Linked DNA regions of Homo sapiens. The protein of the gene in region 2 interacts with the protein of the main gene of each other region in a pairwise test. Each region holds a gene or a part of one and is shown on either strand. Other genes may lie near its edges.

Evidence for each region. The genes of interacting proteins can lie anywhere in the genome.
Region 1: the proteins of ZCCHC10 (region 2) and PRR13 interact in binary tests that used the Homo sapiens proteins (3 or more experiments, as listed by UniProt).
Region 3: the proteins of ZCCHC10 (region 2) and ANKRD36B interact in binary tests that used the Homo sapiens proteins (3 or more experiments, as listed by UniProt).

Annotation. Positions count from the first base shown.
Region 1 is NC_000012.12:53,437,053-53,444,740, forward strand, and holds the start of PRR13 (proline-rich protein 13), read left to right. Parts: upstream 1-4,681; 5' UTR 4,682-4,740; intron 4,741-5,642; 5' UTR 5,643-5,662; coding exon 5,663-5,681; intron 5,682-6,338; coding exon 6,339-6,721; intron 6,722-7,688. UniProt on the Homo sapiens protein: Negatively regulates TSP1 expression at the level of transcription. This down-regulation was shown to reduce taxane-induced apoptosis.
Region 2 is NC_000005.10:133,016,531-133,023,554, forward strand, and holds part of ZCCHC10 (zinc finger CCHC domain-containing protein 10), read right to left. Parts: intron 6,377-7,024; coding exon 6,311-6,376; coding exon of another isoform or gene 6,281-6,310; intron 1-6,280.
Region 3 is NC_000002.12:97,509,871-97,516,894, reverse strand, and holds part of ANKRD36B (ankyrin repeat domain-containing protein 36B), read left to right. Parts: exon of another isoform or gene 1-943; intron 944-949; coding exon 950-1,163; intron 1,164-3,531; coding exon 3,532-3,715; intron 3,716-4,842; coding exon 4,843-5,757; intron 5,758-7,024.

The DNA of each region.
Region 1 (7,688 bases), on a different chromosome or scaffold from region 2:
CTGTCTCCCAGGCTCCAGTGATCCTACCACCCCAGCCTCGTAAGTAGCTGGGATTATGGGCGCACACAACCATGCCCAGCTAATTTTTCTATTTTTTGTAGAGACAAGATTTCACCATGTTGGCCAGGATGGTCTCGAACTCCTGAGCTCAAGGGAATCCACCAGTCTCAGCCTCCCAAAGTGCTGGGATTACAGGCATGAGCCACCCCACTCAGTCAAAAGATAGTCTTGTTATGTAAGATACTATCACTGGGGGAAGCTGGGTAAATTTTACAACTTCTTGTGAGTCTAAAATTATTTCAGAATAAAAGAACACTGTCTAGGCAATACCACTCAGGACATAGGCATGGGCAAAGATTTCATGATGGGATCACCAAAAGCAATCGCAATAAAAGCAAAAATTGACAAATGTGATCTAATTAAACTAAAGAGCTTCTGCACAGCAAAAGAAACTATCATCAGAACAAACAGGCAACCTACAGAATGGGAGAAAATTTTTGTGATCTGCCAAAGTGTCTAATATCCAGAATCTAGAAGAAACTCAAACAAATTTACGAGAAAAAAACAACCCCATTAAAAAGTGGGCAACGGCCAGCCTCCCCGTCCGGGAGGGAGGTGGGGGGCGGCCCCCGCCCGGCCAGCCGCCCCGTCCGGGAGGTGGGGGGTGCCTCTGCCCGGCCGCCCCTTCTGGGAAGTGAGGAGCCCCTCTGCCCTGCCGCCACCCCGTCCGGGAGGTGTACCCAACAGCTGATTGAGAACGGGCCATGATGACGATGGCGGTTTTGTCGAATAGAAAAGGGGGAAATGTGGGGAAAAGATACAGAAATCAGATTGTTGCTGTGTCTGTGTAGAAAGAAGTAGACATAGGAGACTCCATTTTGTTCTGTACTAAGAAAAATTCTTCTGCCTTGGGATGCTGTTGATCTATGACCTTACCCCCAACCCGGTGCTCTCTGAATCATGTGCTGTGTCCACTCAGGGTTAAATGGATTAAGGGCGGTGCAAGATGTGTTTTGTTAAACAGATGCTTGAAGGCAGCATGCTCGTTAAGAGTCATCACCACTCCCTAATCTCAAGTACCCAGGGACACAAACACTGGGGAAGGCCGCAGGGTCCTCTGCCTAGGAAAACCAGAGACCTTTGTTCACTTGTTTATCTGCTGACCTTCCCTCCACTATTGTCCTATGACCCTGCCAAATCCCCCTCTGCGAGAAACACCCAAGAATGATCAATTAAAAAAAAAAAAAAAAAAGAGATAGGAAAAAAAAAAAAAAAGTGGGCAAAAGGCCAGGTGCGGTGGCTCACGCCTATAATCCCAGCACTTTGGGGGGCCGAGGCGGGCGGATCACGAGGTCAGGAGATCAAGATCATCCTGGCTAAGAGGGTGAAACCCCGTCTCTACTAAAAATATAAAAAATTAGCCAGGCACGGTGGCGGGTGCCTGTAGTCCCAGCTACTCGGGAGGCTGAGGCAGGAGAATGGTGCGAACCTGGGAGGCGGAGCTTGCAGTGAGCCAAGATCGTGCCACTGCACTCCAGCCTGGACAACGGGGCCAGGGCGAGACTCCGTCTCAAAAAAAAAAGGGGGGGGCAAAGGACATTAACAGACATTTCTCAAAAGAAGATATGCAGCCGGCCGGGCGCGGTGGCTCACGCCTGTAATCCCAGCACTTTGGGAGGCCGAGGCGGGCGGATCACGAGGTCAGGAGATCGAGACCATCCCGGCTAAAACGGTGAAACCCCGTCTCTACTAAAAAATACAAAAAATTAGCCGGGCGTAGTGGCGGGCGCCTGTAGTCCCAGCTACTTGGGAGGCTGAGGCAGGAGAATGGCGTGAACCCGGGAGGCGGAGCTTGCAGTGAGCCGAGATCCCGCCACTGCACTCCAGCCCGGGCGACAGAGAGAGACTCCGTCTCAAAAAAAAAAAAAAAAAAAAAAAAAAAGAAGATATGCAGCCAACAAACATGAAAAAAAGCTCAACATCACTGAACATTAGAGAAATGTAAATCAAAACCATAATGAGATACTATCTCATGCCAGTCAGAATGGTGATTATTAAAAAGTCAAGAAATAACAGGCCAGGCCTGGTGGCTCATGCCTGTAACCCTAGCACTTTGGGAGGCCAAGGGTGAGTGAATCACTTGAGGTCAGGAGTTTGAAACCACCCTGGCCAGCATGGTGAAACCCTGTTTCTACTAAAAATACAAATATATATATGTATATATATATGGCAGGTGTGGCGGCAGGCACCTGTAATTCTAGCTACTCGGGAGGCTGAGGCAGGAGAATCGCTTGAACCCGGGAGGCAGAGGTTGCAGTGAGCTGAGATCCTGCCACTGCACTTCAGCCTGGGCGACAGAGCAAGACTCAGTCTCAAAAAAAAAAAAAAACCCAAAACCAAAATCCAGATGCTGGCAAGGTTGTGGAGAAATAGGAACATTTTTACACTGTTGGTGGGAGTGTAAATTAGTTCAACCATTGTGGAAGACGATGTGGCGATTCCTCAAAGATCTAGAACCAGAAATACCATTTGACCCAGCAATCTCATTACTGGGTGTATACCCAAAGGAATATAAATCATTCTATTACAAACATACATGCATGTGTATGTTCACTGTAGCACTATTCACAATAGCAAAGACATGGAATTAATCCAAATGCCCATCAACAATAGACTGAAAAACTGTGGTACATATATACCATGGAATACTATGTAGCCATAAAAAGGAATGAGATCATGTCCTTTATAGGGACATGGATGAAGCTGGAAGCCATTAACCTCAGCAAACTCATGCAGGAACATGTTCTCACTCAAGTGGGAGCTACACAGTAAGAACACATGGACACAAGGAGGGGAACAACACACACTGGGGCCTGTTGGGGGGTAGGGTCAGGGGAGTGAGAATATTAGGAAAAATAGCTAATGCATGCTGGGCTTAATACCTAGCTGATGGGTTTATTGGTGCAGCAAAATTTGTGCAGCAAACCAGCATGGCACACATTTAACTATGTAACAAACCTGCACATCATGCACATGTACCCCAGCACTAAAAATAAAAATTAAAAGAAAAAAAGTTTAAAATATTTCAAATGCTTTAGTTTAATATGACATATTTGGCATAAAATTTATTGTCTTAAATTTTTTTGTATCCCACTTTTTTTTTTTTTTTTTTTTGAAACAGAGTCCTGCTCTGTTGCTTAGTCTGGAGTGCAGTGGCATGATCTTGGCTCACTGCACCCTCTCCCTCCCAGGTTCAAGCGATTCTCATGCCTCAGCCTTCCCACTAGCTGGGATTACAGGTATGTGCCACCATGCCTAGCTCACTTTCTTTCTTTCTTTCTTTCTTTTTTTTTTTGAGATGGAGTCTCGCTCTGTTGCCCAGGCTGGAGTGCTATGGCGTGATCTCGGTTCACTGCAACCTCCCGGGTTCAAGCGATTCTCCTGCCTCAGCCTCTCAAGTGGCTGGGATTACAGGCACATGTCACCACGCCCGGCTAATTTTTGTATTTTTAGTAGAAACGGGGTTTTACCATATTGGCCAGGCTGGTCTCGAACTCCTGACCTTGTGATCCGCCTGCCTCGGCCTCCCAAAGTGCTGGGATTACAGGCGTGAGCCACTGCGCCCGGCCACTTGTATTTTTTTTTTTTTTTTAAAGGCTGGGTACGGTGGCTCACGCCTATAATCCCAGCACTTTGGGAGGCCGAGGCGGGCAGATCACGAAGTCAAGAGAGCGAGACCATCCTGGCCAACATGGTGAAATCCCATCTCTACTAAAAAATAGAAAAATTAGCCGCGTCTGTAGTCCCAGCTACTTCGGAGGCTGAGGCAGGATTATCGCTTGAACCCGGGAAGCGGAGGTTGCAGTGAGCCGAGGTCGCACCACTGCACTCCAGCCTCGTGACAGAGCGAGACTCCGTCTCAAAAAAAAAAAAAAAAAAAAAAAGGGAGGCCATTGTAGGGAGGCCATTGTAGCAATTCAGGGGAGAGATGAATCCAGGCGACAGATGATGGGAGGTTTGGAGCAGGGAAGACAGAGAGAAGTGGAGAGATTCCAGATATATTTGAGAGACAAAACTGATAATTTGGGGTAAGGGAGGTGAAGGAGGCAGAGGGATCACGGACGCCCTCCTTGGTTTCTGGTTTAGGCTACTTGACAGATGGCGGAGCTATGCAATTGAGAGAGGGAATCCTGGGAGAGATTATGAAATCTCTGTATCTTCCGCAAGAATGTTTGTTTGCTTCCCTTGCGAGTGTAAGACGGAGCCGGGAACATTGAGGCTTGGGGCTGGGACTCAGCAGCTCTTCTGCCCTTGCCGAGAACTCTGTCTATATCTGTATTACAACACTTACCATAGTGTATTCATTTTACAAGGTATTGCACCCAGTGAACCATGAGGTAAGAGAGCAAGGGAAGAGTTTCTTCTCGGTGTCTCTAGGACTTTGCCCAGCAGCTGGCCCCGCCCCCTCCAGCGCTCTCCGCCTAGCCCCGCCCCCAGGAGATTTCCGGCTTCTCGGTACTGGCCTAGCCGTAAAGGGCTCCGCTCCGCCCCTAGAGCAACCGTTTCCTCCTCAGTCGGACCAGAGTGATTGATTAGTTTGTTGTCTAATCATCAGTCGAGCGGCCACATAATTACCAATTAGGCAGTAGCAGAGGCGGGTGCCGAAGCACGGGGTCTGGGTGACTAGGAAGAGCCGAGACTGCGAAGGAGAACGCAGCAAGCCCAGGCGGCGGTGGAAAGGTGATGGGGTATCTGGATTCCATAGGTTTTTCCTTTTCCCCTTGCTAGGTCAAGAGTCTCTTCGCAGCTTGGGGCTAGGATCTTCATTTGCCTTTTTTCTTTTTTGGAGGAAGGGGGCTGTGTCCACATATTTAAGTATTTGAGGTTCTTGGGCAACTTCCTTCTTACTTCGCCTCGAGGCGTATCCTTTTTTTAGCCTGAGGTGGGGTCCTCCCCAGGGAGAGAGAAAGTTGTTTGAGATCCTTTCTTACTCTGTGCGTGGTTAAAGGCCTCCGTACTCAGTTCCAGGGAAAGGGAGATGAGTGATGGTGGGGCCGAGACTCGCGGGTACTGCCTACTTCCGAAGAGTTAGACGCTTCCACCTGGGTGGAGGGGCCCTGGGAACTAGATTCCTGTGTTAGGAACCAAGTAGGTATTGAGGGCGAAGAAACAAGTGGAAAGAGACATTTCTTTTCTTTTCTTTTCTTTTTGAGACGGTGTCTTGCTCCGTCGCCCAGGCTAGAGTGCAGTGGCGCGGTCTCGGCTCACTGCAACCTCTGCCTCCCGGGTTCAAGCAATTTTCCTGACTCAGCCTCCCGAATAACTGGGATTACAGGTGCCCGCCACCGCGCCCGGCTAATTTTTAGATTTTTAGTAGAGACGGGGTTTCACGATGTTGGCCAGGCTGGTCTCGAACTCTTGACCTCGTGATCCACCCGCCTCGGCCTCCCAAAGTGCTGGGATTACAGGCGTGAGCCACCGCGCCCAGCCAGAAAAGAGACATTTCTTATGTGGAAGTTGTGGTAGTTCTCCAGGTAGGAGAGCCTACTGTGGGGTGGAAGACGTTAGGGCTGGGCTCCGGTGCTAAGTCCACTTCCTACCTCTAGACCGTCATCTTTTTTGCCTCATTTCTTTCTCCTCAGGCTGGAGGACACACCTAAACATGTGGAATCCCAATGCCGGTAGGTGTTTGGGGGTTCTGTTCCACCCCTAACCCTTTTTCTGATGGGCTCTATAACAGGAAGTTTCTGTATCAGCTCCCCTACCCCCGACCTGCTGTACCCGCAAAAGCAAAGTCCTTAGTCTAGAGCTGACCAGTGCTTTTTAATTTAATTTAATTTATTTATTTTTTGAGATGGAGTCTCTGTTGCCCAGGCTCACTGCAACCTCCGCCTCCTGGGTTCAAGCGATTCTCCTGTTTCAGCCTCTGGAGTAGCTGAGATTACAGACGCATGCTATCACGCCCGGCTACTTTTTGTATTTTTAGTAGAGATGGGGGTTTCACAATTTGGCCAGGCTGGTCTCAAACTCATGGCCTCATGAGATCTGTCCACCTCGGCCTCCCAAAGTGCTGGGATTACAGGCGTGAGCCACCGCGCCTGGACTGACCAGTGCTTTTGTCTTCCTCAGAGTTCACTGTCTCCCTCCTCTCCCTAGCCCTTCCAGGGACATTCCCCCTTTTCTCCCCAACTCAAGTTTGTCTCCCCTACCCTCCATTCTTCTTTGTCATCTTTCCGTTTCCCTTTAAGTATTGAGTGAGAAAGAATCTCTTTCTTTTTGTTGTTTGTTGTTGGAGACTCTGGGGAATTCTAATGTTTATTCTCTGCTTCTTCCACCAGGGCAGCCAGGGCCAAATCCATATCCCCCCAATATTGGGTGCCCTGGAGGTTCCAATCCTGCCCACCCACCACCTATTAATCCACCCTTTCCCCCAGGCCCCTGTCCTCCTCCCCCAGGAGCTCCCCATGGCAATCCAGCTTTCCCCCCAGGTGGGCCCCCTCATCCTGTGCCACAGCCAGGGTATCCAGGATGCCAACCGTTGGGTCCCTACCCTCCTCCATACCCACCGCCTGCCCCTGGAATCCCTCCTGTGAATCCCTTGGCTCCTGGCATGGTTGGACCAGCAGTGATAGTAGACAAGAAGATGCAGAAGAAAATGAAGAAAGCTCATAAAAAGATGCACAAGCACCAAAAGCACCACAAGTACCACAAGCATGGCAAGGTCAGTACCCTCTGGAGACTGGCTAGGGAAGGAGTCCCCCCTCAGAGGGACTAGGTAGGCAGGGGTTGGGTGAGGGGGATTCACATTCTGTGGACGTGAGGGATGACAATTGTGTCGCTCTGGTAGATGATTCTTCCTTTTTATAAAAGATTGCTACTGGGAAGAATCTGATTATCTTGAAAATAAACATCAGGCTTCTCCTATCTGGGGGGAGTTAGGGTGAGCCTTAGAATGGATTTTAGAATCAAAAGCCAAATCTTTTCTGCCCTACTCTCCCAGAACTTTTGCTCCCCTCCCGCCAGGTGCATATTCTAGCAAGTTGGACACGCCCACTGACATTGTCAAAATACCAAAGTCATTCCTTTGACAAAGCAAGGTCTTATAATAATTAACAGAATTAATCTGTCCCTAGTTCCAGAAGTTCCTTCTCTCTTTCATCAGTGTTCTTAGGGCGTTGTGTTAATTACATGGGTCCTTTGCCCTATCATCCAGCAGAAAAAGTGAGGACAAGAGCAGTCAGTGACTAGGCTTCTAACAAAGCCTAGGACTAAGGAGGTTTTTTTTTTTTTTTTTTGAGACGGAGTCCCGCTCTTTAGCCCAGGCCAGATTGCAGTGGCACAATCTCGGCTCACTGCAAGCTCCGCCTCCCAGGTTCACGCCATTCTCCTGCCTCAGCCTCCCGAGTAGCTGGGACTACAGGCGCCCGCCACCGCGCCCGGCTAATTCTTTGTATTTTTAGTAGAGATGGGGTTTCACCGTGTTAGCCAAGATGGTCTCGATCTCCTGACCTTGTGATCCGCCCGCCTTGGCCTCCCAAAGTGCTGGGATTACAGGCGTGAGCCACTGCACCCAGCCCTAAGGAGGTTTTATACTCAGCTCCAAGGCTAAGTATCTTTGTTTTAGAGGAGTGTTAAAAATTGGTAAGGGTGGCCAGGTGCCATGGCTCATGCCTGTAATCCTAGCACTT
Region 2 (7,024 bases):
CTCCGGGGTTCAATCGATTCTCTTGCCTCAGCCTCCCAAGTAGCTGGGATTACAGGCGCCTGCCACCACACCCGGCTAATTTTTGTATTTTTAGTAGAGGTGGGGTTTCACCACATTGGCCAGGCTGGTCTTGAACTCCTGACCTCAGGTGATCTGCCCGCCTCAGCCTCCCAAAGTGCTGGGATTATAGGTGTGACCCACCGCGCACAGCTATTTTTCTCTTCTATACTTCCTTCTTCAGGAAGAAACCTGGCTCCCACTATCCTTAATAGATTACTTATTTGGTCAATTCCCCTTATGTAACCAATTGCCCATTGTTGCCACTGCTGCCTCCTCCCCCATATCCTCTTAACTTCACTTGGAATCTGCCCTGCACCCCCACCCACGACTCCCATTGCCAGGCAGGCCCCCCCCAGACACATTTCTCTTTATACACAGGCTCTGGTACCCTATACCAAATTATACCTACTCACATACCCTGTGTGGATATTCTCTCCATGAGGAAACAACTTTTGTTAAACTGCCTCGTGTGGATATTCTCTCCATGAGGAGACAACTTTTGTTAAACTGCCTCGTGTGGACACCTTTGACCCAGCTTGGGATCTGACACCCTGCATTGGACTTCCCCACTACTGGATGACCTCTGCAACCTGCTGACATCACAAGCCAGTTCAAGCTCCTCTGTAGGTGCTCTCCTGACCCCACATTCAGCTCTAATATTTCAAAGCCAAGTTGACCCTCTGCATAGACACCTAGTGTGCTCTATTCTACCCAATACCTTTAGGATTGCATTGTTCAGGAAGGGAAGAGGAAGAACTATAAAAATGTCCATAGCATGATTTTTTTTTTTCATTTTTGAGACAGTGTCTGACTCTGCTGCCCAGACTGGAGTGTGATGATGTGATCATGGCTCACTGCAACCTGAATCTCCTGAGCTCAAGCCATCCTTCCACCTCAGCCTCTCAAGCAGCTGGGACCACAGGTGCGCACCACCACACATGGCTAATATTTTTAGTTTTTGTAAAGATAGGGTCTCACTATGTTTCCTAGGCTGGTTTCAAACTCCTGGCCTCAAGCAATCTTCCCACCTCAGCATCCCAAAGTGCTGGGATTGTAGGCATGAGCCACTGTGCTTGGCAGCATGATTTGCAGTATTCTCAAAATTGGAAATAATATGAAAGTAGAACAGAAGTTTGTGGTACAGAATACAGAGGAATACTTCATGGTAATAACAAAGAATAAATTACAGCTTCATTTAACATAAGATATAAGATAGACTCAAAACAATCCAAATTGAACGATTGAACGATTCTATACAAAGTTTAAAGAGACAGCCAGGTGTGGTAGCTCACTCCTGTAATCCCAACACTTTAGGAGGCCAGGTGGGTGGATCACTTGAAGCCAGGAGTTCGAGACTAGCCTGGCCAACATGGCAAAACTCTGTCTCTACTAAAAATACAAAAAATTAGCTGGGTGTTGTGGCACATGCCTGTAGTCCCAACTGCGTGGGAGGCTGAGGCCTATGAATTGCTTGAAACCAGGAGGCGGAGGGTGCAGTGAGCCGAGATCGCACCACAGCACTCCAGTCTGGGCAACAAAGTGAGAATCTGTCTCAAAAAAAAAAAAAAAAAAGACAAAATTAAACTCTAGTGCACAGATAGTAAACAAACCAAGGCCAGGTGTGTTGGTTCACACCTGCAATCCCAGCACTTCTTTAATGTTTTAAAGAAATCTTTACTCTTTTACTACATAGCTATATGATCTTCAGCAAGCTGATTTTTTTTTTTTTTTAATTACAATAGAGAAAAGGTCTCACTATGTTGCCCAATCAGGTCTCAAACTCCTGGGCTGAAGCAATCCTCCCTCCTTGGCCTCTCTCTTTTTTTTGAGACGGAGTCTTCCTCTGTCGTCCAGGCTGGAGTACAGTGGCGCAATCTCGGTTCACTGCAACCTCCGCCTCCCAGGTTCAAACGATTCTCGTGCCTCAGCCTCCCAAGTAGCTAGGACTACAGGGTGTGCCACCCTGCCCTACTAATTTTTGTATTTTTAGTAGAGACAGGGTTTCGTCATGTTAACCAGGCTAGTCTTGAACTCCTGACCTCAGGTGATCCTTGGCCTCGGCCCACCTTGGCCTCCCAAAGTGCTGGGATTACAGGCGTGAGCCACCACGTCCAGCCTGCGCTGCATTTTTATGGGCAAGAATCTTCTGCAATACTGTAAGTTTCCTATGACTTAAAGATTTGAGAAACAGTGCAAAGACAATGAAAGAAGCAGGCCCTCATAGAGTCACATAGCCAGGAAGGTTGGACTAGACAGAGCACTCAGTAATCGTCTTTTCTTTCTGTCCATTTCAAAGCCTTTCACGATTTTCCCTAAAAATGAAAATATGTGAGGGTGTTGGCGGTGGGGGTCCATAGTCTTCTTTTCCAAGCTTATAGGTTGTTTTCTCCATATTGAGAAACTGGTAGCTTGGGACCCTAGTCATTAAAAATATCCACCAGACATTCTGGAGTTTGTTTTTTATTGTTATAAATACGACATTCACAAATATCATCTAAAGCTCAGGTATGAGGCTGGACGCAGTGGCTCACGCCTATAATCCTGGCACTTTGAGAGGCCAAGGCAGGATCACCCGAGCTCAGGAGTTTGAGACCAGCCTGGGCAACACTGTCTCTAAAAAAAAAAAACAGAGAGAGAAAACAAATGAAGCCCAGGTATGATTAACATATTTTATATGTATGTTTTAAACACTCACAACTCACAAATCACCCCTAAAAATACTAATTTTCCATAAAGATTGCTGAGTTAGACAAACAAAATTTCGAAACAAACAAGATTACCATTTCTTTCTACCCAAATGAATTATCTATTCAAACAATATTTCATTTCTATTTGCTAAGGTAAGGCTGAGGGATGTATTGTAACGGTACAGGCTTTTTACGTGAAATGACGTTCTTTGATACCAAAAATACTAGGACACACTTGCCATATTGGCAAAGTTGTTTTTTTAATGCCTATTGTTGGCAAAAGCAGGGAATAGCCACTCTGTAAATGGACACCGCTGGTAAGAATGTAAAGTGGCACAAATTTTTCAAAGGGCAACTTGTTAATATGCAACAAAAAAATTTTAAATGTGCATACCAGCTGGGTGCAGTGACTCAGACCTGTAATCCCAGCACTTTGGGAGGCGAAGGCGGGTGGATCACTTGAGGTCAGGAGTTCAAGACCAGCCTGGCCAACATGGTAAAACCCGTCTCTACTAAAAATAAAAAAATTAGCTGCGTGGGGTGGTGCATCTGTAGTCCTAGCTACTTGGGAGGCTGAGACAGGAGAATTGCTTGAATCCCAGAGGCAGAGGTTGCAGTGAGCTGAAATCGTGCCTCTGCACTCTAGCCTGGGTGACACAGTGAGACTCCAGCTCAAAAAAAAAAAAAAAGAAAAGTACATACCAAAAAGAGAACATAAAAGATGATCATTTATCTAGAAAATACCTAAGAATCCAAACAATAGAGCAACTAGGCCAGGCACAGTGGCTCATGCCTATAATCCCAGCACTTTGGGAAACAGAGGTGGGAGGATCATTTGAGCCCAGGAGTTCAAGACAAGCCTGGGCAACATAGTGACACCCTGCCTGTACAAAAAATAAAATTGTGGCCAGGAGCGGTGGTTCACACTTGTAATATCCCAGCACTTTGGAAGGCCAAGGCAGATCACTTGATACCAGGAGTTCAAGACCAGCCTGGCCAATACAGCAAAACCCCAACTCCACTGAAAATACAAAAATTAGCCTGTAATCCCAGCTACTTGGGAGGCTGAGGCATGAGAATCACTTGAGCCTGGGAGGCAGAGGCTGCAAGGAACCGAGATCACGCCACTGTACTCCAGCCTGGGCCACAGAGCAAGACTCTGTCTCAAAAAAATATAAATAAAAAAATAAAATAAAATTGCTGAATGTAGTGGGTTGCAGCTGTAGTCTCAGTTACTCAGGAGGCTGTGGTGGGAGAATCATTTGAGCCAGGAGTTCAAGGCTGCAACGAGATATGATCATACAACTACACGCTAGCCTGTCTGACAAAGCAAAAGCCTGTCTTTAAAAAAAAAAAAAAAAAAGAGCTATTAGAACTAATAAATTAGTAAGGTCAGAGGACATAAGATCATTAGACACAAGACTACCAGCAACAACTGAAACTAAAAATTTTTTTTTTTTTGAGACGGAGTCTCACTCTGTCACCCAGGCTGGAGTGCAGTGGTGCAATATTGGCTCACTGCAAGCTCCATCTCCCGGGTTCATGCCATTCTCCTGCCTCAGCCTCCCGAGTAGCTGGGACTACAAGCGCCCGCCACCATGCCCGGCTAATTTTTTGTATTTATTATTTTTTTTTTCTGAGACAAGTCTCGCTCTGTCGCCCAGGCTGGAGTGCAGTGGTGCAATCTCGGCTTACTGCAAGCTCTGCCTCTCGGCTTCACGCTATTCTCCTGCCTCAGCCTACTGAGTAGCTGGGACTACAGGCACCCGCCACCATGCCCGGCTAATTTTTTGTATTTTTAGTAGAGATGGGGTTTCACTGTGTTAGCCAGGATAGTCTTGATCTTTTGACCTCGTGATCCGCCCGCCTCGGCCTCCCAAAGTGCTGGATTACAGGCGTGAGCCACCGCGCACGGCCTAATTTTTGTATTTTTAGTAGAGACAGGGTTTCACCGTGTTAGCCAGGATGGTCTCGATCTCCTGACCTTGTGATCCGCCCACCTCAGCCTCCCAAAGTGCTGGGATTACAGGCGTGAGCTACTGCGCCCAGCCTTTTGAAACTAAAATTTTTAAAAAACACTATTACAATACTTAGGGACAAATCTGACAAAAGATGTGCAAGACCTCTGAAAACTACAAAACACTGCTAAGAGAAATTAAAGATGACCTAAATAAATGGCGAGATATACATAAGCACGGATCAGAAAACTCAATACTGTTAGGATGTCAATTCTCCATAGGTTGATCTGTACACTCAATGCAATCCCAGCTGAAATCGCAGCAGCTTTTGGTAAGCTAATTTAAAATTTATCTGGAAATACAATCTAAAATAGTCAAAATAACTCTGAAAAAGAGCAAAATCAGAGGACTAACACGTGGATTCAAGACTTATTATGAAGCTACAGTAATCATGACACTACCATAGACTTTATAAATACTGTACATTAGGCTGCCCTAAATTTATAATTTTTTTAAATTTCAATAATAAATTAATCTTAGCTTACTACAATTTTACTTTATAACTTTTTTTTTTTTGAAACAGAGTCTTGCTCTGTCACCCAGGCTGGAGTGCAATGGTGTGATCTCGGCTCACTGCAACCTCCGCCTCCCAGGTTATAGTGATTCTCCTGCCTCAGCCTCCCAAGTAGCTGGAATTACAGGTGCCCGCCACGACACCTGGCTAATTTTTTGTATTTTTAGTAGATATGGGGTTTCACCATGTTGATCAAGCTGGTCTTGAACTCTGGACCTCAGGTCATCCACCCACCATGGGCCACCCAAAGTGCTGGGATTACAGGCATGAGCCACCGCACCCGGCCTACTTTATAACTTATAAATGTTTAAAACTTTTTGACTCTTTTGTAATAACCATTAACACACAAACACATTTATAGCTGTACAAAAATTTTTTCTTTCTTTATATCTTCATTCTATAAGCTGTTTTCTATTAAAATTTATTTTTCTTTTTAAACTTTTTTGTAAAAAACTAAGACACACACACATTAGCCTAGGTCTACACAGGGTCAGGATCATCAAGATGTCACTAGGCAACAGAAATTTTTTTAGCTCCATTATAATCTTATGGGACAACCATAGAATTAATATATGGGATCTGTTATGTGGTGCATGACAATATAGAGAGAGATCCAGTTATGGCCTGCATGGTTTGGTATTGTTCAACTTTTTTTTTTTTTTTGAGACAGACTCTCGGTCTGTCGCCAGGCTGGACTGCAGTGGCGAGATCTCGGCTCACTGCAACCTCCGTCTCCCGGGTTCAAGCAATTCTCCTGCCTAGCCTCCCGAGTAGTTGGGACTACAGGCGCATGCCACCACATCCAGCTAATTTTTGTAATTTTTGTAGAGATGGGGTTTCAACATGTTGGCCAGGATGGTCTCGATCTCTTGACCTTGTGATCCACCTGCCTCAGCCTCCCAAAGTGCTGGGATTACAGGCATGAGCCACCACGCCCCGGCCTTGTTCAACATTTTTATAAATGCCTTGTATGAGGACACAAATGTACATATTTATCAAACCTGCAGTTGACACAAAGCTGAGAGGGATACCTAATAACGATGGATGGCTGAATCAGGATCCAAAAGGTCTTGACAGGCTGCAACTCTGTGTCGAATCTAACAAGATGAAATTTAACAAGGACAAAGGTAAGTCTGACACTTAAGTCCAGAAAATCAATACAAGGCAGGGGAGGTCTGACTTGATGACAATTCAGGTAGAAAACAAGGTTTTTTAACTGACTGAAATCATAGCAAGGTTCAAAAACAAGGGAGTAAGAAAGAAATGGGGTTTAACTTTATAAATATTATTGTTTTTCAGCTCAACATAAACTTTTAGATAGATTTGAAAACACAACAGGCCACTTCAGGAGGTAAGTACACATTACTGGAAGTCTTCAAGCCAAGTTTGATGACGACTCTGGATGTTGAAGAAGGAGTAGTGGAATCTCATATAAGGTTTAATAGAAGAAATGACCCCAAATAATGCCTAGACTCCATAATTTACTTAATATAGGTAGATGTAAGTACAGTTTACAAGGTAAAAATAATTAAATCAATTATTTCATTCCAATTGATTTAGTAGACTGACTAGTTAAGTCTCCGAAAGATCTACTGAATGAGGAGTTCGTATTTAGACTTTTTTCCCCGTCTTCTTCTATTAGTCCAAAGACCTTTTTTTTTTTTTTTTTTTAAAGAACGATAAAGCCAGGTGCGGTGGCTCACACCTGTAATCCCAGCACTTTGGGAGGCTGAAGTGGGCAGATT
Region 3 (7,024 bases), on a different chromosome or scaffold from region 2:
CCTCTTCCAGTCATTGTGTGAACCCCAGACATCGTTTCTGCTAATGTTCTTTAACTGTTGTTTTTTTTTATTTTATTTTTCATTGTTCTTAGGAAGTTTCCTAGTACACAAGCACTTTTCATTACTCCACTAAATACCCAAGAGGGAATCTCTGCACATCTCCAGGATTTGTTTCCTGTACTGCTTTTTTCTCTCCAGTTTTCTGTCCTGTGATCTCTATCTGCTTTGGTTTTACTGGCCTCTCAGCGTCATCACCCCAGCTCTATGTCAGATTTTCTCCCTTTGTGATGGCCTCGAACCTCCGTCAAAACTCTGTCAAAAGAGCTGGGATATTTGTAAGGCCTGCTGTATTTGTTTTCTGTCTTTCAGTGATCACCTACCATCTTCATTGCCTGAAGTCCACTGTGTTGAAAATCAGTTTAATGTATTGTGTCTGTTTTGTTTTTTATTCATTCAGATAAGATGAAAAATCAGTATCTGTTACTCCATCAGAGCTAGTAACAGATTGCAGCAGAGCTTCAGCACAGCACATGCTGCAAACTAGCCAGAGTGCTTTGCTTTCTTCTTTGCTTAACTGCTTCTTTCTCATCCTTCATTTCTCAGTGTAGCATCTCTTCCTCAGGGAAATCTTCCCTGGGTGAAGTATAGATCAAATTATCTTATGCAATCACATAACTATGTTTTTTTTTTTTTTTTTTTTTTACAGGACCTATCTGAGTTTATAACTGTCACCTTTTTATCTTGGTTCTTCACTATACTTTAAGCTAAAACAATAGCAGAGGTGTTGTCTTATCTGCAGACCTTACTATAATATCTTCCACCTTGTAGGCACTCAATATGTACATACTTGTTCAACGTATGAATGAATACATGTTAAAAATGCACAGTCCTTTATATCCAAAAATCTACTCATGTATTTTATCTCTAGTTTGTTTTTTCCTGGTTACAGATTGTGTTCACCTATTGAAAATTAAAAATACATTTTGTTTATGGAAAAGATTAATAAAACTTAAAGATAACCACTGTGAGCAACTTAGAGTAAAAATTCGAAAACTGAAAAATAAGGCTAGTGTACTACAAAAGAGAATATCTGAAAAAGAAGAAATAAAATCGCAGTTAAAGCATGAAATACTTGAATTGGAAAAAGAACTCTGTAGTTTGAGGTATGACCTAGTTTTAAATAAATGTTTGAACTGTTTGTTTTATATTAAAGACGTATAAGGAGAAGTTTTGTAATTGCGAACTTTCCTTCTAGGATTTAACAGGGAAGAAAGCTTCTTAATCTTATGGAGTGTGAAATTATTGGATATAATATCACAAGTTCTTAATTGTGAATACTTCTCTAATAATTAAATGCATATTCTTTTAAATCATAGTTTTAATGGCTGTATAGAATTTTACCTTTTGGAAATCTCATTATTTAATTGATGAATTGAATTTCAGGTTTTAAAAAGTTTTTGTAATAATGCTACAAGGAACATCTTTTATATACACATAGTTTTCTACATTTCTAATTATTTACATTGGATAAATTCTTCTGGTTAAAGTATAGAAACTTTTTTAGATCTGTTTTAGATCTGTGATCAATATTTCTAAATTGTTCTTAAGGATGTTCATATTAATTTATAATTCAACCAACAGAGTATAAAACAGATATTTTTCTTTACCCAGAATAATTATTTTAAAAATTATCAGCCGGGTGCAGTGGCTCATGCCTGTAATCCCAGCACTTTGGTAGGCCGAGGTGGGCAGATCACGAGGTCAGGAGTTCGAGACCAGTCTGCCCAACACAGTGAAATGCTATCTCTACTAAAAATACAAAAAATTAGCCAGGTATGGTGGTTGTACCTGTAATCCCAGCTACGCAGGAGGCTGAGGCAGGAGAATCACATGAAACTGGGAGGCAGAGGTTGCAGTGAGCAGAGATTGCACCAGTGCACTCCAGCCCAGTGATAGTAGGAGACTCCCTCTCAAAAAAAAAAAAAAAAAAATGTATCCAGTTTTATTCTTAATATGCAGGGAATAAAAAGTAAAATGTAAAGTGATTACTGATTAGCTTATTCAACATCTCTCTGCTATGTAGATAAAATTAATTCAGTTTTATGCTGAAGACATGTATTATTCTTTATTGTTTAATTAAATATTAGATCTTGTGTTGTTCCAAAACAGATTTTACAATTGGTTATAAAGTACATACTAATCAGCAGGATAGACTGAAAGTGTTACCCAAAAAACAATCTTAAAAAGTGTAGGGTAACATATTACATTCTTAACCTAGTCTTGGATTACAGTAATCTGCTGATATATGTTTCATAAAGACATCGAAAATGCTATCTTGCAATGTAAATTATGTTTAGGGATACTTGCAATGAATGTTTCATGAAGATGAAAATGTATTTCTAGTGAATGTACCAACTTGTTTATAAAAAGTAACTTTATGTTAATTAACTCTAAATGATTCATCCTAATTGAGGAGTAATTACTGTGAAGAAAAGATAATTTTTATCTTGTAACTTTACTGAATAATTTTCAACGTCCTTTTTCATAATATTTGCTAGAGTTACTAGTAATAGAAACTTATGCAGGATGTTCTTTTATCAATACATTTCAACTTATACATGCCCTTTGGATGAGATTGAGGTGAGAAATTAAAAACATGAGAACTAGAAAGAAAAATAGTATTTAAGAACATAGAAACTTTATTAGGATAATAAACCAACATATGAATGTTTTATTTTCTAATATCAACAAAGAGAGTCAAACTCTGTAAGATATTTGAAGACATTTATTCTGAGCCAAATATGAGTGACCGTGGCCCCCGACACAGCCCTCAGGAGGTCCTGAGAACATGTGCCCGAAGTGGTCGGGGTGCAGCTTGGTTTTATACATTTTAGAGAAGCATGAGACAGCAATCAAATACATGTAAGAAATACATTGATTTGGTTCAGAAAGGCAGGCCAACTCAAAGCTGGGGCTTCCAGGCTGTAGGTAAATTTAAACATTTTCTGGTTGACAATTGCTTGAGTTTATTTGAAGACCTGGGATTAATGGAAAGAAATGTTCAGGTTAAGATAAATGATTGTGGGGACCAAGTTTTACTGTGCAGAGGAATCTCTCAGCAGACTTCAGAGAGAGCAGATTGTAAAATGTTTCTTATCGGACCCAAAAGGGTGCCTGGCTCTCAGCTGAATATCCCCTGGATCTGCATAGAAAGGAAGGAAAACAAAGGGGAAAGGGGGTTCTCTATAGAATGTGGATTTTTCCCACAAGAGACTTTGCAGGGCAATTTCAAGGCATGGCAAGGAAATATATTTTGGATTAAATATTTTCTTCCTTGTCTCGTAAGGTTATGCCAGAGTCAGATTGAAAAGCAAGTCACAATATACAGGGTCAAATAAAACCCATCTGATGAGAATCCATGGTTTGTAGGGCACGACTCCCTGGACCCCTTAGGTAGGAATTTGGGCAAGATAAAAAATTAGAGCTTAGTCCTCACTGATAAGATAAATTCTAAGATAAGTATATTTACAGATTTGCCATACAGCAAGAAAAAAAGAAAAGAAGAAATGTTGAAGAGTTGCACCAAAAAGTTAGGGAAAAGTTAAGAATAACAGAAGAGCAATATAGGATAGAAGCTGATGTGACAAAACCAATTAAACCGGCTCTCAAATCAGCAGAGGTGGAATTGAAGACAGGAGGAAATAATTCAAATCAGGTAAATTAATGTTTGGTAAAACTTCATATTTCTACTCTTATTAATATTACTTATACCATCTCTTTCATTTAACATATATTATTTAGGCCTGAACAATCCCCAAATTTTATTTCATCTTAAAAATGAATCATGGCATTTATAGCTATAATTATTTATAATAAATCTTGAAATATTTTATTTTAGTTCAAAGGCCTTTTGAAAACAATGCTATTCTACAATATATACTTAATGATATTGTAAGTATTTTGTTCCTAGTGACATAGTTCAGCATATTTCCCCTATTTCATGTTAATTACATTTCAAATGTTATGGAAAAGGAATAAAAGTTATCACAATAGCAAATAATGTCATGATTTTCTAAGAAGAGTTTTATAGATCTAATTTTCTTGACTTTTGGTGTCTTGAAATAAAAGATTATTTTTGTATGTATATATCTACCTCACAGAAGTTACTGATTTGGTGGAAGAGCACTAGGAATAGAGTCAGAAAAGCTGGGAAAAATCCTGCAGCTTGCTTATATTTTTAACCTTTTGCTATAGAATTATAACTAAATGAGTTCATTGATTTGTGCACGTAAAAGTGCTTAGTATAATGCCTAGCTTTATCATTTATCAATAAATGTCATTCTTAAAACTGACCATAACAATATTAGAAAAGTAGAATATCTATACAATATTTTAGAAAAAGGGAACTTAAAGAATTTGGAAAATGTCATTCATCTGTCCAAATATCTGCCAAGCTAAGGCTCTCACTATAGGGAGAGGTATAGTTTAGATGTTAGAGTGTAAACCCAATTTTTTAATGTGGTCATAGTTATTAATTCTTTATGCCTTGCAATTTGTTGTAATTCAGTAAAAGCCTTTTTTTATCCTGAAATTTAAAAAAATTATCTAGTGGCTTCTTTTTTGCTTTCATGGATTCACTGTCTTCAAATAAACTTTTGAACTTTGGGGAATTTATGCTGTATGAGGTTTGAGGTTTTGACTTAACTTCTTTTTTCCCAGTTAGATATCCAGTTATGGCAACCTCTCATTGTATAAATGTACGGGTTATTATTTAATTTCAGAAGCAATCACAATATGTTATCCTATTGGATACTAGTTACAAGTTTGCTTTGTTTTACTTAGGTTTCTGAAACTGATGAAAAAGAAGACCTGCTGCATGAAAACCGCTTGATGCAAGATGAAATTGCCAGGCTCAGGCTGGAAAAAGACACAATAAAAAACCAAAACCTGGAAAAGAAATACTTAAAAGACTTTGAAATTGTGAAAAGAAAGCATGAAGACCTTCAAAAGGCTCTAAAACGGAATGGGGAAACATTAGCAAAAACGATAGCCTGTTATAGTGGACAGCTTGCTGCTCTGACAGATGAAAACACAACGCTCCGTTCCAAACTGGAGAAGCAAAGAGAGAGCAGGCAAAGACTGGAAACAGAAATGCAATCATACCGTTGTAGACTGAATGCTGCTCGATGTGATCATGATCAAAGTCACTCATCAAAAAGAGACCAAGAGCTTGCTTTCCAGGGCACAGTAGATAAATGTCGTCACTTACAGGAAAATTTGAATTCTCATGTTCTGATTCTTTCTCTGCAACTTTCTAAAGCTGAGAGTAAGTCCAGAGTCCTCAAAACTGAGCTCCATTACACAGGAGAGGCTCTGAAAGAAAAGGCTTTGGTTTTTGAACACGTGCAAAGTGAGCTAAAGCAAAAACAGAGTCAAATGAAGGACATTGAAAAAATGTACAAAAGTGGATACAATACAATGGAAAAATGCATAGAAAAACAGGAAAGATTTTGTCAACTAAAAAAACAAAATATGTTGCTTCAACAGCAACTGGATGATGCTCGCAACAAAGCTGACAATCAAGAAAAAGCAATACTTAATATTCAAGCCAGATGTGATGCTAGAGTACAAAACCTTCAAGCTGAGTGCAGAAAGCACCGTCTTTTACTAGAAGAAGACAATAAAATGTTGGTCAATGAACTGAATCATTCGAAAGAAAAAGAATGCCAATATGAAAAAGAGAAAGCAGAAAGAGAAGTAAGTATCAAGAAAAATAAGTATTTTTCAAACTTCCTGAAGTAAAATTTAAAGTAATATTTGGTTACAGCTGAATGTTGGATCTAGTTGAATATAAAAAAGGATACATATGATAAATATATCTGCTTAGAAACATTCCTTGTCTCCAGCAAGTCAAAGTTAGAACTGAGAGATGCTTTCCTCTGATTAAAGTCAATGTGTCGCTTATAAAATTTTAAGTTATAAAATGTTAACATAGACTAACATTAATAATGTAGTCTTATACTGCTGAAGTAATAATTTTAATGTATTTATGTTGCAACATTTTAAGACCATGATAAATCAGGTATATGGAAATGCTCATACCTAAAATGGTATTTTGAAATTGATTCAATTAAGTGGGGTACTTTGACAGTGAATTTCAGATTTCCTAGATGAACTGAAGTGTATTCCCTATTTCATAATTACTTTTCTTCAGTAGCTTTAAATATGTCTTAGTTGGTAAAATTTTGTTTTTCTTCATGTCAATTTGACTTAAATCTGAAACTATTTCAATCTCAAATTATGTATAGATATGACCATTCTATTCTTTCAAGGCATCTAATTTTACTTCTATTATAATATGGGGCAAATGCAGTAAATTTTAGCCAAATCATGTTTGATTTAATCTTCCCACTGGCATTTATAATTTACTTTCAGTTTTTAAATAAAAAATTTGTTCATAATTTTTATTTCAAGGCTCAATTACTATCATTTGGATATAACTTTGTCCAGGACAAAGAGAGGCATAGCTATCTGTGATTTATTAGTTTGACACTGGATCCCCATTTTCAGACTAAGGAGGATTTCAGACTAACGAGGAGTGGCAGGATTCACGTAGAGTAGGAATGGAGTGAGTACGGAGGAGAGATATAGCAGCTGAGTCAGGGCGGGAGGTGGAGGGCGGGTTACTTAGAGCATCTAAGGCCACTGGAATTTTACTTTTCTTCTGAGATAGACATCTATTGGAAGGATTTAAGCAGATGATTTAATGTGAGGAACTCTGAGGTTGATTTGAGTTTCTAATTTAAAAAAAGAGGGAAATCATTCCACAATGTATAATTTACTACCATCAGTCTCACCCACATACTCATTTCTTTTTGAGACTTCAGAAGGTTTTTAAGCATTGCAGATTCATCAAGGGAGGAATGACTAGTGGGCTGAATATGTTGTGTGAATAACAATACCAGTTTGGCAGGAAGATAACACCTTCTGTATCCTTAACTGGATTCAGTAATACACAGGAATG